Regions from separate parts of the Homo sapiens genome. Here regions 2, 3, 4, 5 and 6 are each linked to region 1. Evidence: fine-mapped expression QTL. A gene starts in region 1. Each other region holds a variant in brackets. All regions are shown on one strand. Distances are from middle to middle. Region 1 holds the start of HK2 (hexokinase 2). Region 2 overlaps HK2 (hexokinase 2). Region 3 overlaps HK2 (hexokinase 2). Region 4 overlaps SLC4A5 (solute carrier family 4 member 5). Region 5 has its middle 22 kb from the start of HK2-DT. Region 6 overlaps HK2 (hexokinase 2).

Evidence for each region. PIP is the estimated chance that this variant, and not a neighbour inherited with it, causes the effect.
Region 2: its variant is fine-mapped to the expression of HK2 in stomach (GTEx, PIP 0.91).
Region 3: its variant is fine-mapped to the expression of HK2 in whole blood (TOPMed, PIP above 0.99). The same link has a PIP of 0.9 or more in blood mononuclear cells.
Region 4: its variant is fine-mapped to the expression of HK2 in whole blood (INTERVAL, PIP 0.98).
Region 5: its variant is fine-mapped to the expression of HK2 in spleen (GTEx, PIP 0.93).
Region 6: its variant is fine-mapped to the expression of HK2 in whole blood (INTERVAL, PIP above 0.99).

The regions. Positions count from the first base shown.
Region 1 is chr2:74,831,688-74,836,695 of GRCh38, reverse strand. It overlaps HK2 (hexokinase 2), which reads right to left and starts at 2,569. Exons shown (of 18, transcript NM_000189.5): 1 at 2,053-2,569. The coding sequence starts at 2,115. It overlaps HK2-DT (HK2 divergent transcript), which reads left to right and starts at 2,709. Exons shown (of 1, transcript NR_185897.1): 1 at 2,709-4,041. RefSeq lists enhancers at 1,128-1,197, 975-1,851 and silencers at 1,428-1,677, 2,598-2,827, 3,008-3,077.
Region 2 is chr2:74,860,139-74,865,146 of GRCh38, reverse strand. All of the region lies in intron 2 of HK2 (hexokinase 2), which reads right to left. Among named protein-coding and RNA genes, the nearest start is that of HK2, 29 kb to the right of the region's middle. The variant A/G (reference allele first, on the strand shown) is at 2,585.
Region 3 is chr2:74,877,914-74,882,921 of GRCh38, reverse strand. It overlaps HK2 (hexokinase 2), which reads right to left. Exons shown (of 18, transcript NM_000189.5): 9 at 4,001-4,234; 10 at 2,353-2,657; 11 at 1,063-1,211; 12 at 683-802. Among named protein-coding and RNA genes, the nearest start is that of LINC01291, 29 kb to the left of the region's middle. The variant A/C (reference allele first, on the strand shown) is at 2,682.
Region 4 is chr2:74,280,917-74,284,916 of GRCh38, reverse strand. All of the region lies in intron 8 of SLC4A5 (solute carrier family 4 member 5), which reads left to right. Among named protein-coding and RNA genes, the nearest start is that of SLC4A5, 60 kb to the left of the region's middle. The variant T/C (reference allele first, on the strand shown) is at 1,903.
Region 5 is chr2:74,809,957-74,814,964 of GRCh38, reverse strand. No RefSeq gene overlaps it. Among named protein-coding and RNA genes, the nearest start is that of HK2-DT, 22 kb to the left of the region's middle. The variant G/T (reference allele first, on the strand shown) is at 2,478.
Region 6 is chr2:74,872,399-74,877,406 of GRCh38, reverse strand. HK2 (hexokinase 2) reads right to left here. Exons shown (of 18, transcript NM_000189.5): 4 at 4,988-5,008; 5 at 4,036-4,131; 6 at 3,464-3,563; 7 at 2,958-3,141; 8 at 86-241. Among named protein-coding and RNA genes, the nearest start is that of LINC01291, 34 kb to the left of the region's middle. The variant CTGAGGTAGGAGA/A (reference allele first, on the strand shown) is at 1,960.

The sequences.
Region 1 (5,008 bases):
AGTCAAATCCCAGGTTCTGACAATTACTGAGTTAAAGGCCTGATTCAATTCTGCCCCTATTGGTAGTTTAGAGGAAATACACCCAAGGGTCTTCAGGGACACTTCTCAAACTGACAGGTGGCTGCAAGGGTAGAGAAAACCTACAGGAATGACAGTTGCACACTGCAGCGCTTAATAATCGCAACTCCATAAAGTGGACAAGCCTACTGTTATTATTGCATTTCACAAAGAGAAACGGGCTGTCCAAAGAGGCTCAGGGTGCTATGGTTAATAAACCACAAGACAGAGATTACAACTCATTTCCAGATACCCTGGTTAATTCCCGTTCCACTCTGGGGGAAGAGAGATGACCCCCATTCCAAGATTGAGAGTGGTATAACTCCAACGGGGTTCCAACCCTGGTGCCCTCCTCTGGATTGAGGAAGAGTAAATTTATGCAAGGATTCAAATGTCCTGGGGTAATACCCAAAGGAGAACTCCCTGAGATTAATGACGCTCCACTGTGTATTTTAGGACTTGCCAAGAGATGATAGCCTTCCCCAAGAGTTCTTAGAAGTTGAGAAGTTACCAAGATCCTGCCAGCTCAAATCAAAGGCACGTTTTTAAGTAAACTGAATCAAGGTGCAGAGCCACATCCCAGGAATTAGAGAATAACAGCCATTTACAAACAGTAAAACCCAAGTAAATCAACCGCCTCTGCTCGCTCCTCCAGACTTGAGGCTGGGTAACTTCTGCTTTTCTTGGAGGTTCACGCGCCATCACTACATTAATATGCCTCCTATGCCCTCGGGACCGCCAGAATGGGAATATGAGCAGGTTGTCGCACAGAACGGTAATGGCAAGACATTTTCCCAAAAATGTGTTCCCATCAGATATTGAAATTCCAAGTATGTAACTGAGCAACGCTCCGTTGCCTCACAGCTCTTAAAACAACCTCCCTCCAGCTAATCCCCTCCCAACTTGTCCCCTACCTCAAATCGTAGCCCAGGCCCGGGCCAGGAGCCAATCCCCTAATCCCGGGCATTTCAGAAACTCAATTCTGAGCGCGCCCCTGGCCCTGCCCGTCCCCGGCCCCGGCCCCATCCCCACCCCCATACCCCGAGGCGGGGAATGAGAGCTTCCCGGCTTGGCCTGAGGCTCTTTCTTATGTAAATGACCCGGCCGCGGTGAGCGCTCAGCCATAGGGAGCTGCGGAGCCAGGTGGGAACAGACAGGTCGAGGCTTAAGGAAAAAAAAGCTCGTTTTCGGAAGGACATAAATCTCAAGAATCTCAAGTAATCCAGGAACGCGGCGCGTTGGCCTCTCCGAGTAACTTTTAGGGCAAACCAGAAAGTAACAACCAAAGTCCTCCCCTTACTCAGAGGCAGATCCTGAGGACACGAGGCTGGGCGGTCCCGAGGCTGATTTGGAGGGGCGGGGGTTAATGGGGGACGCCCCTCGCCGAGCCTCAGTTCCGGGCGCCACAGTTCCGGGGAGGGGGCGCGGCGGGCGGAGTTCCTCTGCCCCTTTCCTACTCCTTCCCGGGTCAGCTTCTCCTCGAGCCCACCCCCGCAGGGCCGCGGGGAAGGAGAAGGGAACCGCTCGTCTCCTACACGCGGTCCGCGAGCGCGGACGGCCCCCGGCGGCCCCACGCGGCAGCGGAGCAGCCTCCCGCAGCCACGATTCTCTCCACGTGCTCTCGCCGGAACTCGCGCTGCAGAAGGGGGCTCCCTCCCACGTGGGCGCAGCAATCCCTGACTACCTGCGGGGTGACCCGCCCCTCCAGTAACAGGGAAAAAGGGACTGGGGGAGAGAGCGTGAGCGCGTGCCGGAGCTCAGGGAGGGAGGGCGCCCGGCGGAGCGCGACCTCGGCTCCCCGCCCGCGCGCACTCGCCGGCTGTGCTTAGCGGACGTGGCTCCTGGCGCCCAGGAGTGTCCCGGCTGCCCAAACTTTTTCCGCTCCCAGGCCCGGAGTAGGGAGGAAGCGGGTCCCCGCAGGGTCGAGGAAGAGACTGATGGAGGCCAGACCACTTTGCCAGAGCCCAGCCTGCCGCCCCGCCCGCGCTGACTTACCTTCTGCACTTGGTCATGGTTGAGCTCCGTGAAGAAGTAGGCAAGCAGATGCGAGGCAATCATCCTGCCGCGGCCCGACGGCGCAGAGTTGGGAAACCGAGGCGGAGACGCGAGAGGGGAGGCGGGCGGCGCGGTCCGACTGCTTTGTGCTGGGGCTCGGCTGCCGGGCCGGGAGCTGGGAGTCCGGACGGCGCACAAAGAAGGCTACCGGCGAGGGTGCGCCCGGCTGGCGGAGGGCGCGGGTCTCCGGAGACGTGATTTTGGCGTCACAACTGCTAGAAGGCGCCTCAGTTCTCTCCTGGCGACGTGTCCGGTTGTCCCACGTCAAGGCGCTAACTTCGGCCACAGGATCACTGAGGCTCAACTTGAGAAGAATCTCAGCCCGGCTCCACTCGGGCAGTGGGACCTCTCCGATTCACAGGCGCGTGGCTCGGGCCCGCGGATTTTCTTAGCTGGGTGACACGATGTTGCCAGCGGCAGCCCGGGACTCCTGCGCCGGAGTTTCATGCAACAATGTGGCTTATTGAGGGGCTGCCGGCCCGCGGGCCTCCGGATCAGTGACGTGCGCACGCCCATTGGCTGCGCGGGGAGGGTGTGTGCGCCCACGGACCGCCCGCCGCCGTGGCGCAGCCAATCATCGCTCACGGCTCGCGGGCGCGGCCGCTCAGACACCGGAGCCGGCAGCCTGGGGAGGCGCGCCGGGGGCGGGGGGCGGGGGAGGGGCGGGGCGCCTGAGATGGGACGTGTGGTCCGTGGCTAAAGGCTGGGACGGAAAGGCGCATGAGCCACCGCCGCGTCAGGCTCGGCTATGGGTGGGGGGAGCGTGATCGCGGACCCGGGGTGTGGGGCGACTGGAAAAACGGGCCTCTGGACCAGCACACGCCCTGTGCGGAGAGACACTGTCTGGCATCTCGGGATCATGTGAGGGGCTCCCACTGCCCAGTCACACGTCTAAAGCATCCTAGTTCTTACCTATTGTAGCACGGCCGGAAAGTGAGCCGCCTTAGCTGCTGATTGTACTAGAGCAGGCAATACAAGAGTCGGCCCATCCTCAAAACCACTGATAGGATGTGAGTTTCACTAACCCCGTTTTACAGATGAGGAAATTGAGGCAAGGCCAGGGCTCACACCTGTAATCCCAGCACTTTGGGAGTCCAAGGTTGGAGGGTTGCTTGAGACCAGGAGTTCATGACCAGCCTGGGCGACATAGTGAGACCCCCATCTTCCCAAATAAAAATAAATAAATCAGCCGGACATGGTGGCATGTGCCTGTAGTCCCTGCTGCTCAGAAGGCTAAGGTGGAAGGATAGCTTGAGCCCAGGAGTTCGAGGCTGCAGTGAGCTATGATCATACCACTGTACTCCAGCCTAGGTGACAGAGGGAGACCCTGTCTCAAAAAGAAAAGAGACTTACACGAGGTCACATAGCTAATAAGTGGCAGATAGGGAAGAGAACCCTTGTCCCTCTACTTTAAGGCCCTATTCGCTTGCCCCATTATCCCATGCTGCCTCTCTAAGAGCCAGAGAAGTAGGAGGTAGAAAAAGAGCATCTCTGCAGCTCTGGGACTGATGATGTGAATGAACTGGGTAGATGGTAAGTGTGTAACTGGGTGATCTTGGACATGGGATGGGGTGGGTGAGGAGGCTTACCAATGCTGAGAGGAGTGGAAGCTCCAACCCCAGCTAATGCTAGACACCAGACTCCAAATTTAAACACACAGTGGAAACTGGCAAGAATGAAATACTGACTTCAATACAGATTTCAAGAGACATGACATTAGCACTGGTGGAGAATGGCAAGCCTAAGGTTGGAAAAGGTTCAGGGAAGGAAGATGAAGGTCTGCCATGTTCTACTGAGGAGGAGTTTTTCAAACAGTGGGGTGCTGTCTGCAATGTGTACAGCCTTAAAATTATTATATAAGTAATCAATACTCATTGTTGAAAAATAATATATGGATAAACAGGAAAAATAAACAAAAATCATAATCCATCTAGCCTCTCAGCAAAACTTCCTTTTTTTTTTTTTTAAAGCAGGGACTCGATATGTTGCCCAGGCTGGTCTTGAACTCCTGGGCTCAAGCAGTCCTCCCACTTCAGCGTCCCAAATAGCTGGGATTACAGATGTGCTCAGCAAAACTTCTTGAGAACTATGTACCCTTCTAAATGCACGTCCTCAACCCTCCTTCCCTATACTCCACACAGAATTGAGCTCAAACTGCTTTTGTCATAGTCATCATAATGACCTACATGTTGCCAAATCTTGCATTCTCTTCTCTTCCCTGCCCTTGTCTTACTCCTTCTCTCAGGGATGTTGAGGACAGTTAATCACATCCTCCATCTGGACACACCTTCCTCTCTCAGTAAGAGCACCAGTGCTCCACTCTGAGGGTTTCTGGCTAACCTCACTCCCCAGGCTCCTGAGTCCCTGTTTGCTCTATTGGTAAATGCTGGGGTATTCGGGGCTGCCCTCCACCCTCTTCTCTGAACTAGTTACAGTTTCAAACTCCCTGAGGAGAAACTAACTTCCTAGCCCCATGACTGTTATATCATATGCATGCTGATGACTCACCATAGTAAATCTACAGCGAGGTCCTCTCCTGGAGTTGCAGGCTTATTTCTCCAGCTTGCCATTTGTCATCTCCACTGAAGTGACTAGCATATCACACTTAACATGTCCAAAGCTGAACTCAACTTTTTTTCCCAAATCTTTTTCTTTCCCAGTTGTCTCAGCAAATGGCATCGCCATCCACCCTAACTCGTCTTCGATTCCTTCTTGCCACTCACCCTCACAGCCAGTCAATCCATCAGCAAGCAGTTAATTCCACCTATAAAACAGACCGTGCATCTGACCACTTATCTCCATGCCCTTAGACACCTCCTGAGATCTTCCCACAGAATACTGCTTGGCATTCACACTAGCATGCTTTCCTCAAAAATACAAACTCTTTCTCACCCAA
Region 2 (5,008 bases), 28 kb before region 1:
ACCATAGCCAATGACTGCATTCCTTCCAAGTCCGGAATCTGAGGCAGGCCTAGCACTGTGACTCGGCAATCCTGAGACGGGCCCTCTCGTAACGCCCACGCATGGTTACGTGCCCATGCCAGAGCAGTGGTTAGGCACTGGACCTTAGACAGGTAGGCAGGCCTCATTTTGAATTCCAGCTCAGCAGCTTCACTACCTGTGTGGTGTGGGCACATCACAGGGCTCTCTGAGCATGTCACCTCACCTGTAGAACAGGATTCATAATGCTGACATCTCCCAGCGGTTGTGATGCTTACGTGAAACATGGACTATGTTGTATGTGAACATATAGAAACACACAGGCTGGGTGTGGTGGCTCATGCTTGTATTCCCAGCACTTTGGGAGGCCAAGGCGGGCAGATTACTTGAGGTCTGGAGTTTGAGACCAGCCTGGTCAACATGGTGAAACCCTGTCTCTACTAATAATACAAAAATTTGCCGGGCATGGTGGCGTAGCCCTGTAATCCCAGTTACTTGGGAGGCTGAGGCAAGAGAATCACTAGAACCCAGGAAGTGGAGGTTGCAGTGAACTGAGATCTCGCCACTGTACCCCAGCCTGGGCAATAGAGCCAGACTCTGTCTCAAAAAAAAAACAAACAAATGACAACAACAACAAAGAAGAAACACAGTAAATTATTCCTCCGTTAATAGATCCTATCAAGGTACTTGTTCCCTTTCTCCCTGTCAAGGCCATGGAGGTTTGTGGCATGCTCTGGTGTCCAGTAAGGCAGGACAGAGGTTTGGTATAACTATAAGTTGGCATTAATTTGTGGGTGCCAAAAAATGGCATGTCCAGAGTAGCTACAACATAGGGCTCACGTGACATGGCTATAAACGCACAGCAAATACCATTGCCAAGGACTTTCTTTCGTTCTTAAGAAGGTCAGATCTGTTTCCAAAAGGGCTCTAGTGGCTCTAGTGGCACTGTGGAGGGCTGGGATAGCACAAGGAAGCAGCTCAAGGGCTGCTGCCACAGTTGAGCTGAGCAGCAGTGAGGGCATGAGCTCCAGGGCCATGTAGGGTGGCCAACCATCCCAGTTTGCCCAGGATGGAGGGGTTTCCTATGACATGGGACTTTCAATGCCAAAACTGGGAGAGGCTCAGGCAAATCAGAACACTGGACTGTATTTGATCCAACCTTAGAGCCTCTGGCTCTTCCTTGTCACTCAATGCCTGAGGCATGCAGCCGTAAACTTGGAGGTGGGTCAAAGTCACAAACGCATACTTTCACATTCAGTTCCTGAACCAGCCCTATATTTATAACTTAATGCCCCTAAAGGGACCTGCCCTTTCTGCCCTACAATATCATTTCCAGTGGCCCCAGGTAACTGCACTGAACATTCCAATCATCCTCTATGGGGTGACTCTGGGTTGAGGGGATCTTGTTTTTTTCCTTTAGTTTTCAAGCACCTGCTAGCACACAACAGTGGACTGCTCTGAGAATGTATGGCATATACTCCAAATGAAACGAGGACCGAAAAGATACATCTCCAAGTCCTAAGCAGGTAATGTAGCAAGACACAGGTCTCAAGGCACGTATTTTCCATGTACCCGGAATCGCCATGATCACTACCACACCTGGCAGCCTCTTTTTAAACCCCAGGATTCCAATTACTCCATTACAATGCAATGCCGGCCACCATTCAAGAGCTCAGCCATACAGAAGTATTCAATACTCCGTGTCATTAAAGGCACTGAATCACAGTTAACGCTGGTGTCTGGTACAGACTAGGAATGGAGTGATCTGATCTTCTACATCATTTGTTTTCAAACCATTTTAAGCAACAGAATGCTTATTTCCAAATAAAATTGGTGGGCCAAATGCCACAACGTAAAATAGAGAAAAACAGAGCTGCTCCAACTGAAGGGAGGGGTGTGGAACACGTAAAACACATGACTGGCACCCTAAAGCTCCTAGGACACCTCTTGGAATGCACCACTCTGGTGCTCTTTTTACCCAGGAAGTGTTTCTTAAGCTCAAAATACGTGCCAGTCACAGAGAGGTGTAATTAGCCCCACAGATGTGAAACCACTCTTCAAAGGGTTAAAACATGATTATGTTTCAATATTGTGTAAGCTCTGAGCATGTTCAGCTTTTTAGGCAGGCAGACCTGGGTTCAAATCCCACTCTAACATGCATTAGCCATGTGGCTTTGGGCAATTTATTAGAAATCTGACACTCAGATTTCATCATCTGTTTTAAAAGGGTAACGATAACCTCCTTCTAGTCAGCACCTCCCTCCACAACCCAGAACAAGAACACAGGAAAACACACACATATACACGCACACATACACACACGCACCTTGTCAAGATTCAGTGCAAGGAAGTGTAAGGCGTTTGGCACAACGCCTGACAATGTAAGTGCCATCTGCTGTACTGAGGCTATCTATCAGTACAATCTTCAATTTATATCGCCTGGACTACGTAAGTACCCCAATTAACTTGCTGTGTGCTAGCTCTGGATGTATGTCTCCGCTGTACAGTTGTTAATATAATGCAGAGCAACCAAGATAAGGGCTTCCTTCAGGTTTAACCAGCTTCC[A/G]TGCAACGTATCACCAGCCCGGTCTCCCTTTATCACATCATGTGCTTGCATTATATGGCCCGATATCTCTAATTGTTTTGTCTACATGGGCCTTATCTCCCCAGCACAACTTTCACTCTTTAAAGGGCACGAGGCAGCTTAGCACACTGCTGCTGCACAGAGGACCAAGCCTCGGAGAGGACTGTTGAATGAGCTGAACAGCTAGGCCTAGGTTAGTAAGAGAAGAATCCACACATTGTGCTAGCAGCACAGCACCAATGTGCCACTGGTGGTGTGCTTAAAAGCCCAGGCATTAGCAATTTGGCTGGCCAAGTTCCAATCCCAATGCTGCCACTTGCTCACTGTGACTTTGGGCAAGTTGCCTAATTGCTCCAAATCTATTGCCTTTTTCTGTAAAGTGAAGTTCAGCGTACCTACCACTGGATGACTGTAAGAAATGATGAGATAGCTCAAACACAGCGTTCAGCACAGTACCTGGCACTAACGATGTCTACAATTTTTATCATCATCATCATCACCGTCACCATCAGCATCATGGTTCCCTGCTCTCTAGAGGGTTTAAGTCTGGCTAGAGGATGGAGGTATACTTACCTGTGAACATAATTCACAATTCCGAGGTGAAGAAGAGTCAAATGATCGATCTGACACTGCCTTACCCTCACTCTGTCTCATAAGGCATAGTTATAACCAAACGATCTTGCCAAGACAAGGGTGATAAAGGCACCACAGTTACTTCATTTCTAAGTTAGAACATGCGGCTGGCACATTTTCAGTTGGGTTGTACTTGAGCTTCTTATTGGAATGATACAAAGCCAACTCGTATTTAGGATCCATTTAAAAAGATAATCATCTGATTTTCCCTAGAAACTTTGGTTCAGCAGTACAAGCCAATGTAAACTGTGAATCTTATGGCCGTGGAGTCAGGACTATCTATGCTTACATCCCAACTGTCACCATCTGCCCACAGGTGACCTTGGCAGCCATCAATCCTTTTTTAGCCTTGGTTGCCTCATTTTTAAAGTGAGAATGACTCTCTTGTAAAGTTTTTGTGGAGAGTAAAACAGATTTATGTAAATGGCCTAGTACAGACACCATGGGTGCTCATTAAATGCTATCAATTCTTCCTGCATTCCCTTTTTTTTTTTTTCGGAGTCTCACTCTGTCGCCCAGGCTGGAGTGCAGCAGCATGATCTCAGCTCACTGCAACCTCTGCCTCCCAGATTCAAGCGATTCTCGTGTCTCAGCCCCCCAGTAGCTGGGATTACAGGTCCATGCCACCACAACCGGCTAATTTTTTATATTTTTAGTAGAGATGGGGTTTCAACATGTTGGCCAGGCTGGTCCTGACCTCAAGTGATCCACCCACCTTGGCCTCCCAAAGTGTTAGGATTACAGGCGTAAGCCACCGTGCCCGACCCCTGCATTCCCTTTTAAAATGGAACTGTCCTCTGAAAGCCAGGCCCCTATGTGTGGCCCCTATGTGTGTGGTGGGGCCCCTGACAGAACTGCGTTAGGGCTGGTACCACAGTCACACGCAGGGTTGTGGCACAGATTAGGGCTGCCTACAGAGAGGTCAAGATGGTGTGTTTCCTAGCAAACGCAAATGAATGCTTTCTTTAATTAACTCTCCACTGAAAAAAAGAAACAAGGACATACAGACAACAAATGCTATTGAGGATATGGAGCAGGCAGAGCTCTCATACATTATTAGTGGGAGTATAAATGGTTCAACAATTTGGGGGAAATGTCTGGCAGTTTCTAAAAATTAAACATATACCAAATTCTATGAATGACCCAGTAATTCCACTCCTAGTTGTTTATACAAGGAACTAAAAACGTGTCCACAAAAGGGCTTGTGCAATAATGTTCATAGCAGCTTTACTCAAATAGCCAAAAACTGGAAACTGCCCGGGTGTCCATCAATATTCATATCAGATTCTAATCATACCATGGAATCAGCAGCCAAAAGGAACGAGACACTGATAGACACAACACAGATAAATCCCACATTATGACAAATAAAAAAAGACTTGCATAAAAAACAAATACTGTGTGAGTCGATTTATATGTGAAGTTCTGGAACAGGCAAAACTCACATATGTGGAAAATAGTAGAATGTGATTGCCTCTGGGGGGATCAGGTACAGGGATTGACTGGGAAGGGGCTCAAGGTAACTTTCTGGGGTGATGGTAATGTTCTGTATCTTGATGGAGGTTTTTTTTAGTTGTTTAAATTTATGAGGTGCAAACATAATTTTGTTACATGGATATACTGCACAATGGTGAAGTGAGGGCTTTTAGTGTATCCAACACCCACTACATCCGTTAAGTAATTTCTCATCATCCACACCACCCCCCACCCTCCTACCCTCATGCCCCCCACCCTCCTACCCTCACCCTTCCAAGTCTCCATGGTCTATCATTC
Region 3 (5,008 bases), 46 kb before region 1:
AAACAACAGGATATGGCATGAAAATGCCCTGAGCCCATAACAAGGGCCTCAGGAGCCCCACAGCATAACTGACAGCACAGGCTCAGGCATCAGGAACCCAGAATCCAAATCTTGGCTTGGCCAGTCCCAAGCTATTATGACCTGGAGCAAGACACCCAGCACCTCTGTGGGGCTTATCTTCCTTTCTGTAGAATGGGTATTCAAACATATCTCTTATATGGTTGCTGTGAGGGTTAAACGAGATAATGCAGGTAAGAAACCTAACATAGTACCTGGCACACAGTAAGTGCTTAAAAATGCTATATATATATATATAAGTTCAATAGAGATGGGGTCTTCCTATGTTGCCTAGGCTAGTCTTGAAATCCTGGCCTCAAGTAATCCTCCTGCCTCAGCCTCCCAAAGTGCTGAGATTACAGGTATGAGTCACCACACCCGGCAGTTGTTAACATTGAGTAGCATCATCATCGTTGTCCCAAAGGCTGTCACAGCTGAGCTAACCTACTTAACCTCCACCAGCCTCAACTTACTCATTCCCATCAAGGAGCCCCTCCCCACTACTGGTAACTCACGCCCTCCTTTCCTTAGTCTTAGCTCAACTTTCTCCCCTGCTCCATACCTGGCTGGTTTTGTTTAGAGTCAATAAAGCCCACAGGAGAGCCCTCCAGGAAGGTGCTGTTACCTCGTCCAGGCTGTTCTGCTGGCAGGGGAAGGAGAAGGTAAAACCCAGAGGCAGGGACACGCCCTTCATGCCCATGTACTCGAGGAAGTCCGCGATGCACTGGACAATGTGGTCAAAGAGCTGCAGGGAGAAGTTAGGACACTGAGGGAGGGGCCCTGGGCAGGGCAGGCTGCCCCCAGTAGGGCCTGCGCACAACATCAATGTTTCTTTCCACCCAGAAGAAATGCAGGCTCAGGCACAAACCTGAGTCAAGACCAGGCTGCAGCCCTGGGTCCAGCTAGCCCTCCCCAGGGTCACAGATGAGCAGAGAAAGCACTGTCCTCGAAGGCAAGAGGTGACGTCCACCAGGGGCCCCCTCCTGAAGGCGCCGCCCTGCTCACCTCGTCCCCGGTGCCGTGCATGACCTCCTGCGGGATGGCGTAGATCTTGTTGTGCATCTCCACTCCACCCCACTTCCCATTCCGAACACGGACCAGCAGGACCCGGAAATTTGTTCCTCCAAGGTCCAAGGCCAAGAAGTCCCCTTTCTCTGGAAAATAAGCCCAGGGAAGTGATAAGTTGGGGCAGAACATGGGGAATGTGGAGACAGTACACTTAAAACGATCCAAATACACCATTCCTGTTCCATCAAATGCCACTTTATATTACATTCTAGAATACAGAAGGAACAGAAGAGTCCAGCTCCCTGAAGGAAGCTGAAGGGAAATCTTTTAAACTGAGAAAACCCTCCCTTGTTGGACAATTACAGTGTGCCACATGCTTCACACACAGTCCTCGTTCAACCCTTAGGCAGCCCTGTGAGGGAGACACTGCATTCCTCTCTTAAGGATGATTGGGATCTGGCTGATAGTTAAATCACTTGCCCGGGGCCATACGACCAGGACAGGGTAGAGCAGGGACCAAATCCCAGTCTGTCTCTGGAACCTGTAACAACTGTGCTACACTGGCCTGCTCATCGACTGTCTTCTCTGAATTGGAATAAGACCACCATTTCTGAGGTTACAAGACTTACAGCAGGGGTCAGAAATCTTTTTCTGTAAAGGCCCAGACAGCAAACGTTTTAGGCCCTGTGGGTCATGCAGTCTTTGCTGCCACCACTCAACTTTGCCAAGACAGTGCAAAACAACCATAAGCAACGTGCAGACGCATGGGCATGGCTGTGTAATAAAACCTTATGTACAAAAACAGGTGGTGGGCCAGATTCAGCCCATGGGCCATAGTTTGCCAACCCTGACTCAGACCAATGTGGTGATTGCAAGAGCAGATTCTAGAACCTGAATTCCTGGGTTTGAATCCCAGCTCCGACATTTTCTAGTTGTGTGAATTTAGGCAGGTGTCTTAACTTCTCTGCGCCTCAGTTTTCTGTCAAACATAGGTGAATACATAAAATTAACTGCTAATATTTTTTAACAGTTAACAAAGATTAAATGAGCTCATACACATAAAGTGCTTTGACACACAGTAAGCATTCAATAAGTGTTGACCATTACTACTGTTTGCAGAGGAGCACCTTGTTTGAGTTTATCAAAGACTAGAACTCCCTAGTAATACGGCTGAAGAAACGTGTTCTGGTTCAAATGTCCAATGCTAATGCTAAGGGATCCCTCCCAGGGTATCAACACCAGGACAAAGGCCCACCATGTGAGCCAGGTGGCAACCCTGCCGTGTACCTGTGCCGTCCGGGGTAGCACACACGTAGGTGGGCAGCATCTTGACGGGGGCACTGGCATGAGTCTCCTTGCTCAGACCTCGCTCCATTTCTACCTTCATCCTCCTCTTGACCTCCAGCAGCTGGTCATGGCTCAGCTGCAGATGCTCTAATGTCTTCTGGCGGGCACGGTGTTGATCGGCCAGCCGGTAAGCCACTGCTGTCACCATGGCTGCACCTTTGCCACTGCCATCCTCGGAGCGGAGGAAGCGGACATCGCAGCCGGGCACCAGCCGCCGCACGGTCTTATGTAGACGCTTGGCAAAACTGCAGTTCCCCAGGGCGGGTAAG[A/C]GACAGGTGTCCATGGTTAGGGTCAATGGTGCAAATAGTTAGACAGTTGCCCACCGCCTTAATCCAAATGCCAAAAGGCACCTGCAGGAGTGGGTGCTGCCCTAAACATCCTCTCTCCACTGTCCCAAGTTAGGAACCACTACAAGAACCATATCAACTATGACCACCCAGGATTGGTTCACCCCCGCCAATGAAAGGAAAAGACCTTTTAATAAGCCACTGTCCCCTACATGCAGCCACACAAGACCTCCTCTTCCTCACTGAAGAAGGCCCCCTGGCCACTGCTCCCTTGCCCAACATGGTACCATCAGCCTCTTTGCTGGAGCAGCCCTGTGGTATTAGGTGGTTCTGATGCCACCTATCTGTCTTGTTCTATCACTCATTTCACTAGCTGCTGTCTGGGAAAGACCCAAAATTAAAAGCTAGAGATGCTCTTCTGGACTTTAGCCTCTCTTTTGCCAGTTTCTGCCAATGATCCCAAAGGTGTCTGCACAGCTAAAGACAACGTGTTCAGCCAGGAACTCTCTGGGTAGTGGCCACTTGGAGCCATGGTCTCCAGGGCCTTCCTACTCCAAGTGCAGGAGTAGGCTGCAGCCTACTGGGGGCTGTTAGAGATGCGGGATCTCAGACTCACCCCAGACCTTCTGATCAGAATCTGCCTCTTAGCAAGATCCCCATGTGATTCACGTGCACACTCGAGTTTTTGCAACACTGGGTAGGAAGAGGGAATCTCAGGGCTGAGGCCTCCTGCACCGACAAGTTAAGAAAACAAAGGCACATTGACCTGGCATTCTTATTAGGTGAAAATGATGGGGAAATAAGTAGGCACAATAAAGAGACATCTTCCAGGTCTCAGCTGACATGTGAATATTCTGGTACCTATGACCTGAGGGATCAAAATGTGGACAGGGCAGGATCAATTTAATACCAAGGTCAGCCAGAGAAGCTGGTAACCCTCACTGGGCTGGGGTGGTCCCTGGCAGAGGACATAGCACCTGCAGGAATCACCAAGAATTCTAAGAGTAAAGACAGGAACAATAACGCATACAAGAGGGTGGCAAAGAGAGTGTCCAGCAGCCAGAGGAGCTCTGCGGAGAGCCCGAGTCATCAGTAGCCTTCAGAAATCACCTCCACCCACACCAGATATGACTTCCTCCCATTCCCCCTTGCCCAGGTGGGAACTTTCATTCCACCAAGACCCTCAGCTCTATGGTCCCTCCACACCACCCCTGAAATGCAAAATGGAGCTGGCATGAGGAGTCACTCAGCCCCAGGTACTCCAGGAACTCCGCATCTCCAGGCCCTGCACACTGACTCACTGGGGGTGTTTCTTGTAGACGGAACCGTCGACCCCAATAGTAGAGCGCAGCCGCTCCTCGCCTTTGTTCTCCTTGATGCGCTGCAGCACGGCGGCCAGGGTGGCTGCGCACAGGCTGGCGGAGCGTGTGGACACGATCTGGCAGATCCGGTGAGTGGCCACGCAGTCCTCCTGAGTCGGGTCCAGGCCCAACCGCATCAGGACCTCACGGGCCTTCCGGATGCCATCCTTCTCCCTGGGAAACAGAAAGATAGCATGTGGGCCTGTGTCTGACCCACTGTGGCCAGTGTGTGTGTCGGGGGGTGGCAAGGAAGCCCTTTAGTTCCAGCAAATTCACCACCCAGTGGGGACAGAATCCCTCTTCATTGCTTAGTCCACCTGTGCAGGGGCAGGAGGAGGAGGAAGGGGGTGCAAAATATAGCACAGCCACCCTGAGGCTCCTCTCCCAGACACCACACACACACGCACACGCATGTGCGTGCGCACACACACACACACACACACACACAGAGACACACGGAGTTGAGAAACACAAGTATTTCTTATGCATGTGCTATGTAAAAACAAGGCCCTGTTCTTGGTGCTTTACCACCAAGTTGTGTGTGTGAGAGTTTGTGTTACATCTGCTTGTGTTAGGGGAGACAGACAGTGTCTCTGCTGTCAGCCACTCTCAACATGTGAACCCTGCGGTGATGCCCACCTGGTTTCTCTCTCTAAAGCAGTAGGAGTCTATTGCATTTCACCATGGACTTGGCACTGCTTTAGCTTGTGTCTAAAGATGGTTGGTAAGGGGCTAGTGCTATAACCTTAGCACCCTTCTCAAGGGAACTAAATCTTGCATCACCTTGGGGTACTTGCATCACCTTGGGGTATAGCAACAAGTAGGCCCCATTCCTTCAAGAGTTTCCCCTTAAAACAAAGTCATTGGCACTGTTCCACTGCTCCATTTGGCTCCAAAGACACCTCCTCTCCACCATCTGGTCCCTGAAACACCAGGACTTCTTCAATC
Region 4 (4,000 bases), 550 kb after region 1:
AAATCCAGATGGAGAGGGCTATCTGGCAGAGTTTGGGGCTGCAGAGTTGGAGCCATGGAGAAAAGCGTGTGGAGCAGAGAGCACTCCATATATACGGAGAGCAGAAACTGGAGGGGAGCCGCACGGAGAAGTCGCAGGAGCCAAGGGAGGGGCAGGGTAAGAATGGTTGGCACTGCTCATATCCCCAGTGCCTGTGACAAAGGGGCCTTGGGACTTAACTGGACTGTTCAGCAGTGCCCAATGCTCCCAAGAGCCCAAGGGGAAGGAAGGCTATGGTAAGAGGCAGCGGGAGGGACCTTCGGACAGGAAGACAGACTGCCGATATTTCTCCACCTTCTTTACATGATGCCACTCTGCCCCCAGGAGAAGAATTTAATTTGATTTAAATCAACTTTATTAAATTAATATTTAATTTCTTTCATTAGAAATAAGGAATAGGCCGGGCGCGGTGGCTCACGCCTGTAATCCCAGCACTTTGGGAGGCCGAGGCGGGTGGATCATGAGGTCAGGAGATCGAGACCATCCTGGCTAACAAGGTGAAACCCCGTCTCTACTAAAAATACAAAAAAAAAATTAGCCGGGCGCGGTGGCGGGCGCCTGTAGTCCCAGCTACTCGGGAGGCTGAGGCAGGAGAATGGCGTGAACCCGGGAAGCGGAGCTTGCAGTGAGCCGAGATTGCGCCACTGCAGTCCGCAGTCCGACCTGGGCGACAGAGCGAGACTCCGTCTCAAAAAAAAAAAAAAAAAAAAAAAAAGAAATAAGGAATAAGGGCTAGGCACAGTGGCTCATGCCTGTAATGCCAACATTTTGAGAGGCCAAGACAGGCAGATTGCTTGAGCCCAGGAGTTCAAGACCAGCCTGGACAACATAGGAAGACCTCGTCTCTACAAAAATAAAAATAAAAATAGAAAATTAGCTAGGCGTGGTGGCACACACCTGTAGTCTCAGCTACTTGAAAAGATGAGGTGGGAGATCACCTGAGCCAGGGGAAGTTGAGGCTGCAGTGAGCCATGATTGTGCCATTACACTCCAACCTGGACAACAGAGTGAGACTCTGTCTCAAAAAAAAAAAAAAAAAGGAATAAGATTTGTCAGGTCGAGTGTAGCTCTAGAGTACCACAAACCATTGTAATATCTAAAATATTTTCACTCCTCGAAGAAACAGTTTTTGCCCCCTTGGGGGCAATTATGCCCAAGTTGAGAGTGCATAGACTCAACCGTGCCCAGGTCTGTCTCTGCATGGGGGCCACTGTGACACCCAGAGCCTGACAGCTGCCCCCAACCATGGCCTGGGCTCTTCCCTCGCTCATCTCCCTCACTAGCCTGGGTAGTTGCTGTGCAGAGCCAGAAGGCACAGGTTTGGACACCCCCAGGTTTTCCCCACTCCACGTACCATGTATCTGGAAGAAAAGCCACTGGGTGTACTAGTAAATAAGTCCCTGCGGGCCTCAGAGAGGAACAAATCCCCAGCTCCACATCTGGGCCCGGTCCCTGTGTGGAAGCCATTGAATCTCTTCCTATGATGCCGTTCTTTGAACACTTACGGTGCTGATCGATTCACGGCTTGTCTCCTGCAAGTTGCACAGTGACCCTGAGTGGGTGGAATTTTCATTATCCCTATTTTATAGATAGGAAACTGAGGTGAAGGGGAGCAAGTAGCTCACCAGGGGTCAGAGCATGTAGGTGGCTGAATATGGATTCCAGTCCAGGCCTGTCTGACTTCCCACTTGAGGGATAATGGACTTTGTCTTCCTTTCCTCATTTTCTCAGCCCTTTCTCTTTCTGTCTCTAACTTCCAGTGACTGTTTTGACTTCCAGGGAAGAACATAGGTCTGGAAGCAATTCTGTTGGGGTCAGAGATACATGGGGAGAGCTGCAGAGCCCAGGATGCCTATCCAAGAT[T/C]GACAGGGAAGGGGGACATTTCAAATGACCAGGACCCACCCTGGGTTATTATGTCTTAACACCTCTGAGGGGCCAGGGCCTGAAGCCACTGCCCGCCCTGAACGAGGGCCTCTCCTGCCCAGAGTGAGCAAATAGAGAGGAGGAAATCTGGGCAGGGCCTTCTCAGAGGCCCAGGAAGGGGAAGGTGCCTTCTCCACACCCTGGACAGGGTCTGCATCCAGAAGCCCTAGCCATGGTTGCCAGGACCAGACCCTCCACGAGGGCCTATCACACACACCCGTGGAGCCCTTGCCAAGAAGGCCTTATGGCCCCCAGAGACCTGACTATCACCAAAGGCAAACCACACTGTCTCTATTCTCTCAGAGTGTGGATTCACAAAGCCCTCTGCACTCCAGACCCAGTGAAGGAACCAAGAAACTGTAGATGAGGATGTTTCTAGAAGGGGGCTTCTCCTAAAACATAAAGGGGTCTGGCAGTTACCATCTGCAAAGTGGTAGGTTTCCCTGCAAAGCAGGCTTTCTGAAGATGGCATCTGAGGAGGTCCTGGAAGAAAGGCCATCAGGACCTCAGGATAACCTGGCTCCAACCAGCAGTGAGAAGAAAGCAATGACTAGAAGTTAAAGTGGTCGAACCCAATTCTAGGCAGATCCCAAAGAGGAGTAGCTTGAAGGCCAGCTTGCGGACAGGAAAATGTGGGAAGAGAGTAGCTTTCTCGACTTCTGCTCCACCCTTTTCTACTCTCTACAGCTAACCCCATCTGGTTTCCAGATAACTCTCCAAGGTATGACCAGCAAGCCCCTAGTGAAGTCAGAAGAAGGGTTTGACCATCAGCCAAGAAGCCCACCATGGGCCTGAACAGTTTTGCTGGGCCCTCCTCCAGGCAAACTACAAGGTTAGAGGTGCTTGGGTCAGAGCTGTTTGAGGCTTGTCACCCCCACAAAAAAATAGCAGTTTCTTCAGTTGACAGGCCAGTGGAGCCACTCAGGGAAGCTAGAGATCTCAGATGTTTTGAGAATCTAAGAATCAGTAAATCATAATGGGTTCTGGGCCTTCTTAGAGTAACAGGAGAAAATGATAGGGAGTAGGGGACAGCCCCTCACACAGACACTCAGGCTCCAAGACGGTTATGGTCCACAATGCCCATGTCAAAGAGAATCGGGGAGGGGACGCTTTAATAAAAGTATTTAATTTGCTGCAGGGAGTGTTTGCTTTATTGAGTTAGGAGATTAACAGAGTGAAAATCTCAAATCCGCAAGGAATTTTCCCTGGCAGTGCTTTGTCGGGAGTTATTAGTTTGGGGGATGTTTCAGGCCCTTGGAGGAGTCACTCCTGGAGGGATTTAAATGGCTTTTTGAGCTCTGCTGAGCCTAGCACCATGCACATAATGGGGACTGTGTGTGCAGCGTCATTTCTAATGTGATCAATGCTGGTAGGTCAGGCTGTTAATAAGATAGATTTTTATTAACTCTGTCTCTAGCATTCCCATGAGGGAAATGCAGCTGGCTGTTTGCTGATAATGACCTTGCCTGAAGGGAGGGCTGGATCAGATTGGGTGGGGGCGACCACCTGACTGTGAGCAAACTATTTACCCAGAATTCTATCCTCTCTCATGCCCACCTCTGCCTGACTGCAAGTGGAGGGGCTGGGAAGGAGAATGACCTGGGTTGGAACCCACCCAAGTGTGGAGGGCCCTTTGGGGTTACTCAGAAATAACCAGAGCTTAGCGCCTCCCAAGAGCTGTGAAAGCAAATTCCAAATCCAAGCTGCTTCTGGTCTCAACTCAGAGCAGACCATAAACACGAACCTGCCAGAAGATTCTTATGAGACACATGCTCTGAGAATGTTCCTGCAGTGACCGGGAAGGGCAGGAGAAGTGGGTCAGTTGTTGGGTCAAACCAGATCAGTATGTTTTCAAAAGCCCTGAATGGTTCTATGCACATAGGCAGGGATGCTCTCACTCCATACAGGATGGAGAAAGCTGAACTATCTGTTTCAACCCTGAAATCACCCTCATTAAGATCCTGTATAGTCCAGGCACAGTGGCTCATGCCTGTAATCCCAGCACTTTGGGAGGCTGAAGCAGGTGGATCACCTGAGG
Region 5 (5,008 bases), 22 kb after region 1:
GGTTCCTGACTTAAGCAAGTGAGAAGTACCCTTTATTGAGACAGAAATATGGGGAAGAATGGATTTGATGGATAGATCTGGAGTTCCATTTCAGACATGCTAAACTGAAATGCCTGTGATAACTCAAGCGGAGATCACAAGTGGACAGTTACATGAGTTTCTGTTCATATCAGAAATCTGGCTGCAGGTAAAATTTGGGAGTTGTCAAGTTCACTTATATTTAGAGGCATGGGAAAGGATGAGATCCTCTACTGAAGGGGTGTGGACAAAGAAGCTTTCATTCCTAATGTGCTTGAACTTTTTTAGTCTCTCATACATTGTGGACCACACTATAGAATGTTTTCCTGCAGCAGCTGGGAGCAAGTCTTCACCTTTGTCTTTGACAGTACCGACAGCGAAGCTACCTTTCTCTCCTCACCAGCAGATGTCTGCCTAACTTGATGCTTATAGAGTGCTGGGCTAGAGCACAGTGCCTCTTCTCCAGGGTCTCAGATCTTCTGCATGTGGGATTTACTTTCCACCTCTTTAACTCTAATCCTAGGTCTGTTTACACATTGATTAAAAGGTCCTTAAATTGTTTTAGGACATAAAGATGTTTTTCTATTTCAAGGATGGCTTGGAAATAGAGATGAGCATACAAGGGAATGTGAGAGCATGCAGGATCTGTTTATTCTTCTCAACTCTTCTGTTTGTTTGAGTCCCAGTGTATGCTGGGTTTGATAACCAGGACTCAAGGAGAACTGAACCACCGACAGCTTTGTTTACTAAGGGTATACCAACATCCCTCTGTGGATCTGACATTTATATGCCTTATAGAGAAGATTTGGTTGGGTTTTTCTGTCCCATCCGATGTGGATCACCTGTACTAAGAGCTAAATTTTTCTCCAAGCCACCTCACAATGGGTTGAGCTCCATGATGTCCAATCTATACCCAGTCGCCTTTGGTTTGGGTAATGATCCCTGGTTCAATCAGTTATTGCAGCAGAAGCAAAGTTAGTTTCACTTGATATACAAGGCGGGTCCACTGCAATAAGACGCAGCCTCTGCTGGAGACCTCTAGACTCAGAAGCGGGTAAGGGGATCCCCTTTAGAGATCTGGCTCAAAGGAACTACAGTTCCTCGTCCCATCTGCAGAGCTGTTTTGACAAAACTCATCATATCTGTAGGTTCCAGAGTGTGACTCTTCAGTGTGGTGAGATTATAAAGTAACAAGACTGGTAGCTTAGAAGAACCCGCAAGATATGGAAGTACTTTCTTCAATTGCCTCATTAAATCTTTCACCATGATGTGTTGGCTGCTCTATTTTACAACTGCTTTCTGCAAAGCTCTATATGCATTTTATTTCTTTCAAACTTGAGAAAATTATTTAGGAGAGTTTCTGAACGTTCCTCATAGACCTCTTAATTTTGAGTTTAGCAATTTGGTCCAAGTAAATAGGATTGGTTCAGTTTTACAAAATTTCAAGCTACTAAAGAAGCTGAGAGCTTTGAGGTAAGAAGAATCAAAGTAACTTAAAGGCATGGTCAGTGAAAAATCATTAAACTAGCCATGCATAGACAAGTAGAACTTCCCTTCAGGGTAGAACTTCAGATACCTAGTGGTCAGATATCTGAGACACTTCAAAGAATTCCAGTGTGAGAGAAGACTTGACCTTTTAGGTCAACTGGAAAAGTCATCTAGTATGATGGGTTCCACGGAGGAAAAAGATATGGAGTGAAAGAAATGTGTCTTCTCTTCAGCTCAGCATTATCAGAGCCTTGTCATGTTAGGAGACAATTCTTCACAGGTCTCTGGCATTTGTGCATATCTTAGAGTCGGAGCACTCCCTGCCTCTATTTCAGACTATCTTTTCAAGGATGTCTGTGCAGCTAACAGCCCTGGAAGGTATAGTGTCTCCCTCCAGGGCAGGGTCAGGTTTGTTTACGCCCAGTATTAACAAAGATAGTATCTTTTTTCAGGGCAAAGTTCAGGTAGGCTTATTGTCTGTCACAAAACATTTTGTTTTTCTGAGACAGGGTCTCCCTCTGTCACCCAGGCTGGAGTGCAGTGGTGCAATCTCAGCTGACTGCAACCTCGACCTCCCCGGCTCAAGCCGTCCTCCTACCTTAGCCACCCAGGTAGCTGGGACCATAGGTGCATGCTACCACCCCTGACTATTTTTGTATTTTTTGTAGAGATGGGGTTTCATCATGTTGCCCAGGCTGCCTCCAACTTCTGGGCTCAAGCAATTCTCCCACCTCAGCCTCCCAAAGTGCTGGGATTCCAGATGTGAGCCACCGCACCTGGCCCATCACAAAAGATTTGAGTTCACTAAGCCTGGAATTCCTCTCTTATAATGTAACCCACAACAAGTGCAAGAATTACCTGGGTCTTTTGTCACCCTGTGGAAATTGAGGTTTGAGGAACCAATGCAAAAATAGGGATACTAGGCTGCTGCTATTACTTAAGTACTAACCTGTTCTTTGCCTCTGACCCAG[G/T]AGTCTTCTGTCTTCTGTTGGCATCTGTGAGTCAGGCTTGTTAGCTTGCAAGTACAGCAAAATCTCAAATCCTTCACAATTCTCGACAGTCAGGGATCTGTATAGGTCATTTTAGCCCAGGACTCAAGCTTATTTTTGTTAGCAATACCAAGAACTGTGTCACATAGACACATGGACACACAGGGGGGAACAACGCACACTGGGGCCTACTGGAGGGCAGAGGGTGGGAGAAAGGAGAGGATCAGGAAAAATAGCTAATGGATACTAGGCTCAATACCTGGCCGATGACATAATCTGTACAACAAACTCCCTTAACACACATTTACCTATGTAAAAAGCCTGCACATCCTGCACATGTACCCCTGAACTTAAAATAAAAATTAAAAAAGAAAAGGCACTGTGTTGGAACTTTCAAACAAAACTTTTCTGACAGCCCAGATAGAAGAGTTGTTTTACTTCTGATTCTCAGACTGCATGGACACATGCACAGTATTGTACTTTTTGTAAGACTCAAAATTCAAATCTTCTTCCAAAAGTTCCTCCAAAAAGTCTCAGCACTGAACAAAGTTTAGGGGACAGGCAGTACTGTCCATCCGTAGCAGAGGCCACACAACTGGACCAGATGTTTTCAAGTTCTCCTCCCTGATGGCAGCCAAGAACCTCACCCCACAACCACCATCAAGGGCTCTGCTTTCTCTTTCCTGGCTGGGATTGGGCTCTTCCCCTCTCCTCCCTGTTGCTTCTCCCTCCTAAACCCTTCAAATCCATCTCGCTCCCTTCTTCTCCACCATCCACACCTTCATCATCTCTTTCTAACCTGCCTCTAGCCTTCAGCTTCTCTCCTGTCAATCAGATCCTACACTGCCATCAGAGTTTACAACTTCCTTGAATCCCCATTGCTTTCAGCAGTTTTTGAACCAAGCAAACTTGATGGCTGCTGGTTTCTGTTTGATATTTTGAACTTCTGCTAAGATTATTTTGAAAAAAAAACAGGGGGGCAGGTGCCACTGCTTTAAAACTTTTTGGAAAAACACTAGTAACCTGAAGGATAAACTTCAAAGCCTTTAGCTTATTGTTCAAAGCTCTTTATAATATTGCCCCATCCCTGATCTTGCTCCCTCCCTCAAAATCCCTACACTTCAGCTGCTCTTCCTACACCCACATCACCATCTTACACACCTAAAATTTTGCCACACTCCTGTTTTGATCAAGCCTTACTGCCCACGGGATGAAGTCCAAGTTACTTCAGCTGGTGTTTATCACTCTCCCAGTTCCACCCTGCCCTAGCCTCCTTCCTGATGCAAACTCTTCTATCCAGCAAATTTGATTTCTTCCCAGGGTAGTGGAAACTGGGCTCCTCTGAGCCTTCTTTGAACCTTTGCTTACATATGGCTGCACCCTTTCTCTATTGTCCCTCCCCTTCACCCTGGTCTACTCCCATCTTCCACCCCAGACACAAGACATATACAACTACAATGGACAAAACCATCTCGGATCACTCCAGCCTATGCAGAATGCTCTGTGTGTGTGTGTGTGTGTGTGTGTGTGTGTGTGTGTGTGTGTCCAGCCTATCTGTTAACTCCTTGAAGGCAGAAACACCACACTCTTCTTCATACTCCATCCCCCCTCCCCAACACCCACACACATGCTCAGTACCTGGCAATAGCAGACTCCCAGTAAATATAGGTTGCTTCATGGATCTCAAGAATCTTTCCTGTGGCTCTCCCCACTTTTCCCACTTGAGTAACACAAATTCCTGATGCACCATGCTCTCTCTGATTCGACTCATGCTGTGTGCTACCCCATCGTCCCATTCTCAACCTGGAATGCACTGTCCTCTTCCCCCTTCATGAGCATTTCTACTTATTCTTTAGATGCAGTTCAGTGTCACCTTTTTGTCTAAACCAAGTTCTGTGTCATCCTAGACAACTTTAGTCATGAGGTTGGTTCATTCTGCGTCTGGATTCAGACATAAGCTCCTTGATCTTATGGTTCATTTCATAGACTTATATCAAATTTTGTAGCTCCCCCCAAAAAAAAGATAACACCCCACTCACCTCCAGGAGCCTTTCCACCATTGCTCTTATCATCTTGTATTATTATTGTCTGCTTCTTTGACCACCTTCTTCTAAAAGATGAGGAGCTTCTTGGGGGAAAGGACTAGGTTTTATCCAACTTTGTGCTCTCAACACATCACATATTCTATGTGCTTAATAAATACTTCTTAATAAAAATGTGAATTTTTTCAGCTACTCAACTAGGATAGTTAATTTTATGTTATTAATTTTTTTTTTTTTTGAGACGGAATCTCGCTCTGTCGCTCAGGCTGGAGTGCAGTGGCGTGATCTCGGCTCACTGCAAACTCCGCCCCCACCAGGTTCATGCCATTCTCCTGCTTCAGCCTCCCAAGTAGCTGGGACTACAGGCGCCCTCCACCACGCCCGGCTAATTTTTTGTATTTTTTTTAGTAGAGACAGGGTTTCACCGTGTTAGCCAGGATGGTCTTGATCTCCCGACCTCATGATCTACCC
Region 6 (5,008 bases), 41 kb before region 1:
AAGGTACAGCCCCCTCCTCATTCCCCAACTACCCGTCAACTCGTGTGGTGATCCAGCAAATAGAGGGGGCTGGCCAGAAGCTCACCCTTCAATGTCTGAGATGTCTTTGGTCTCAAAGCGACCGGTGTTGAGAAGCTCTGGGCTGAGCTTCCCCCCAAAGAGCAGCTCCTCCTTGGCCATCTTCACCAGGATAAGCCTCACCAGCTCCCCCATGTACATCCCACTGATCATCTTCTCAAACCTGCCGGAAGACACAAACCAAAAACATAAAGTCCCCACTGCCCATGTACTCATAGCTTCCCTGTTGAAGCAAGATGCGCACACGTGCAACTTCACAACTAAGGGTTAATGTGTGCAGCACGGCCCAGGAGTAAGATACGTGGAGAGGTGACGGCTCAGAGGGGCTGGCTTGGGTTGTCCCTGCAGGCTGATGGGCCTTGACCTATGGAGAAGAATAAATGAAACTTAAGCAGCCAAATGAAACACACAGGGAGTATGGAACATTCTGGAACAGCCTGTATTTTAGGTAAAGTTATGCGTAGGGTGGTAATCTTTAAAATTCTTCTCTAGCCAGGAAATCATTTTTAAAATTAATATCTTACATAGCCCAATATTTATTTACAAGAGAAAAAAGGCGATCTGATTAGATATGTAGCACAGGCCTAGAAACTCATCAGCTCATACTGTCCACCCCTGCAAGCCGTTCATGGGCTCCAGAGAAAATGGTGTGAAAACCACCTGGGGCAGGGGATGATGGGGCAACATTATAAAGGCAGGTTGGGATAGAGGAATCTGCACTGGGCTCCGAGCTCTAAATGACAGGTCTCAGGGGTCTGGGAGTGAAACAGGCTTCTAAGCAGGCAGGTGACAAGATGTTTTAGAAAGGCAGGGGACGGCCCCCAAACCAGCAGTGCGGTCCGGTGATTTAATTTTAACACTAGGTGGCACTGTTTTCTTTCATAATTGGTCTTTCTGACTAGAACTGAGAGGAAACCAAGCCCTGGTGATAATTCTTTTTGACAAAAGGCCCATTTCTGGGTGTTTGAGAAAGAACCTGTGTCTTAGAGGAGGCACATGGGCCTGCTGCCACTAACTAGGATGAGCCCCAGCGAGGAGGAGGCCCAGGACTGAGATGTGGAAGGGATTCCAAGGTTACCTTTCCGAGAGGAAACCCAGGCCTCCAGGAAGCAGCCTGCTCAAGACCCAAGGCCGAGTACAGCAGCATCAGGGCTAACTGAGAGCTGGCAAAATTGTGAAGATGACAGCGCGCATTTTAAATGTTAGTGCACCCACACAGGCAGAGCTTCAGGAGAAGGAAACCAGCGTGGATGGGAGCCTGGCTTCAACAGTAAGGAACTCCGTGTTGCTAAGTTTTTATTCTAGTTTTTAAAAACACTTTGTTCCAGTCAACATTTGGAAGATACTTACTTGGAAATATATTAGAGGGGACAAAAATTGTCTGTAGTGACTTCAGGGCTACCATGGATGACAATTTGGTGGGTGTCAAAGGATAAGCCGGGGGTGTGCTGTCATGGTCTGGCTGGCAAATTTGTCTTTTGACATTTGAAAGGGCCTTTAGTTCCTCGGAATGACTTGGGTGTGCCTCATTCATGGAGGCAGGCACTGAGTGACTTTTCAGCTCATAAACCTCTCATCAGCCATGGCAGACACAACCAGTATGATCCTCAGAAATTTCAAGTAAAGGACTCATTTCAACATGTGAAACAAGCTTGTGACTTAGATAAATAAACCATGCTTTGACAAAGCAAGGACTCTCAGGCCGGGCGCGGTGGCTCACGCCTGTAATCCCAGCACTTTGGGAGGCCGAGGAGGGCGGACCGCCTGAGGTCGGGAGTTCGAGACCAGTCTGGCCAGCATGGTGAAACCCTGTCTCTAATAAAAATACAAAAATTAGCTGGGCGTGGTGGCAGGCGCCTGTAATCCCAGCTACTCAGGAAG[CTGAGGTAGGAGA/A]ATCGCTTGAACCCGGGAGGCAGAGATTGCGGTGAGCCAAGATTGCGCCATTGCACACCAGCCTGGGCAACAGAGAGAGACTCTGTCTCAAAAAAAAAAAAAAAAAAACGAAAGCAAGGACTCTCCTGGGTTACCCACCACTGACTTGATTTATAGGGTTCAATTTTCCTGTCCAAGTAGAGATCTGCACGAAAAGCTTTTCTACAACAGTCACAAGACCAGAGATGATCTGTATTGCTCAAAATATTTTGCAACTGCTTCAGACCTTGAAGCAATCCCTGTTTCAAGATCTTTCACACGCACATTTGGCAAATGTTTGTGAGGGTGAAATAAGGTTTTGTAAGAGATAAAAGCAACTAAAAACAAAGGCAGGCCAGGCTGGAGAATACAATATTCAGGATCCAAAATGCTAGACGCCCCTCCTCCAATCCATCCCAGGACATAGTTGGGCCAAGGTCCAAGTGAAGGAGGCCAAGGAAGCTCCTCAGCCAATGTCTCCAGGGGCCATGGGTCTGCCTGCAGCTGCAGCAGGAGGCCCTGGGACCCCAGGGAGCAGCAATGAGCAGCCAGCTGTCAGCCTGTCCTCTGGGTGGTGATGGAGTTGGAGCTATGAAAGGAGCTTTCAGAGACCCCAATCTTGGCCACCTCAACACAACTTTCCTTAGGTGGCTCACAGTTCCCATGGACAATTTACAAATAGAAGGTGGAAAGAAAGAGCAGGGCCACCCACTTACACTCAGAATAGAACCTTCCAAAATGACTCCTGTGAAGGAAACACATTATTAGCTATAATCTGGTATATCCGCTTGCTCTCTGTTTTAGATCCTCTCAGCAATTTATAGTCACAGACATTCCTATGACCAGTGGCCACCTTGGCAAGCTTTGGGGATGTAAGACTGTAAAGAAACAACCCCCTGGCCCCGACCAGCCCCAGACTCAGCTCCAGGCCCCCGCCAAGCCCACTCGCACAGGAAGGGCCTACTCACAGTTGCTTTCCCGGGTTCAGTGAGCCCATGTCAATCTCCTGGTCAAACTCAGTGCGAATGTCGTTGAGCGAGCCATCGTCCCCGAAGGCCCCCCACTCCATATTGATACACATCCGCCCCTCATCGCCTTCCACCATGTCGATGTGGCGCATCTCTTCCATGTAGCAGGCGTTGCTGCCCGTGCCTGCCAAAACAAGGGACGGCTATGCACACGCCTGCTCCGGCCCCTTCCCACCCCTCTTCCCTCTTATACTACTGTCCCGAGACTGCCCGGCCAGGATGGCTGGGATTTCTCACTGCAGACTCTGGGGGCATCACAATACATGGTCTAATCTTCTGCCACCCCCAACTCCATGAGTCCCTGCTCGGCTCTCCAAAGTGACTGGACCATTATCTTCTAATATGAACTACAAAGGAACACCCAGCCCATGGGCCCCTTCTCCCTTTCCAGCCCACACCCCCATCCCTTGGCCAGCACGGGCCCTTCATGCACGGTGTTCACTCACCCACAATGAGACCAATCTCACAGTTGTGGTCATCATAACCACAGGTCATCATGGTCCCAACTGTGTCATTCACCACAGCCACAATGTCGATATCAAAGTCCTGTGGAGACAAATGGGAGGGCTCTGACCTTCATCATCACAGAGGGCGACTTTCCTAACACCAGCTATATATCACTCCTCCTCCTCCTCCTCCTCCTTCTCTCTCTCTCCCCCCTCCCTCCCCATAACTCCTCCTGTGATAAGACTTTTAATTCATTCTCTCTCTGAGCCATTCCACTCCCATGTCAACATCATTCCAACTTTCTTACTTGGAAATCACATTCAAGTCTTCTTCAGGTTAAGAACTAAAGAGCTTTTCTTGTGCCAAGGCTAAGATTATTTATCCATTTGATAATCTAAAAACCCCCAAAGCAGCAGATCGCATACAAAATTATTGAGTACATGTGTCAGGGAAAAGAGAACTCTCCTTAAGCTCCACGTAAGCAAACAATGATGAGTCAAGGACACTCAGGGAGTCTTCAGGGTGGACCCAGAAAAGCCCACAGACCCCAAGCTCCTGCCACCCCACTCACCCCTCTCCTCTGGATGGCCTTCCGGATCAGAGCCACAACGTCTCTGCCTTCCACTCCACTGGACTTGAATCCCTTGGTCCATGAGACCAGGAAACTCTGGAAAGGGACCAAGAAGTGAATATTGATTTCCCACTAAAACTGAAACTCACACCACACCCCTCAAACCTCCGTCATTAGCAGAGACCTCTGCCACTGGGGTAAAGTCATGATTGAATTTGTGTGTTACTTCCTGGCTAGCCTAGGAAAAAGAAACTCAGGACAACTGGCACTATAAGACACAGTCATGTGCCGCATAACAATGTTTCAGTCAGTGACAGATTGTGTATACTGCGGTGGTAACAAGATTATAATAGAGCTGAAAAGTTCCTATTGCCTAGTTAGATACACAGATATCACTGTGTTACAATTGCCTATAGCATTCAGTACAGTAACATGCTATACAGATTTGTGGCCTAGGAGTTAACAGGCTGTCCCATACAGCCTAGGTGTGTAGTAGTCTATACCATCTAGGTTTGTGTAAGTGCACTCTATGATGTTTATACATAAGTGAAATCACCTAATAAAGCATTTCTCAGAACATATCCCCATTGTTATGCAATACATGACTGTACTTGTGTCCTTACATCATTAACTCTCCAAGTATCTTTCTTCCAAGGGTCTTTATCATAACACTTTAGACTGGGGAGTTCCTGATTTCTCATTCCTGTTTCTGTGGAGGGGATAAGGATACTGTGCAATGTGTGTGGGAGAGAGGGTGATAAAGGGCACTCCCAACCCCCCAGATTTCTTCACCAGCCCCCCCATCGACATACACAGTCACCCAGAAAGGCAGAACTTCATCTCCACAATCCTCCAGTGCTACCACCACCACCACAGCAGGTGGCTCAGAAGTCCCTCTCAGCCCTCCCAGCCCCAAGAGTGAAGCAACAAGTGTCTGAGGAGCCCATCTTACCTCGTCTAGTTTAGTCTGGTG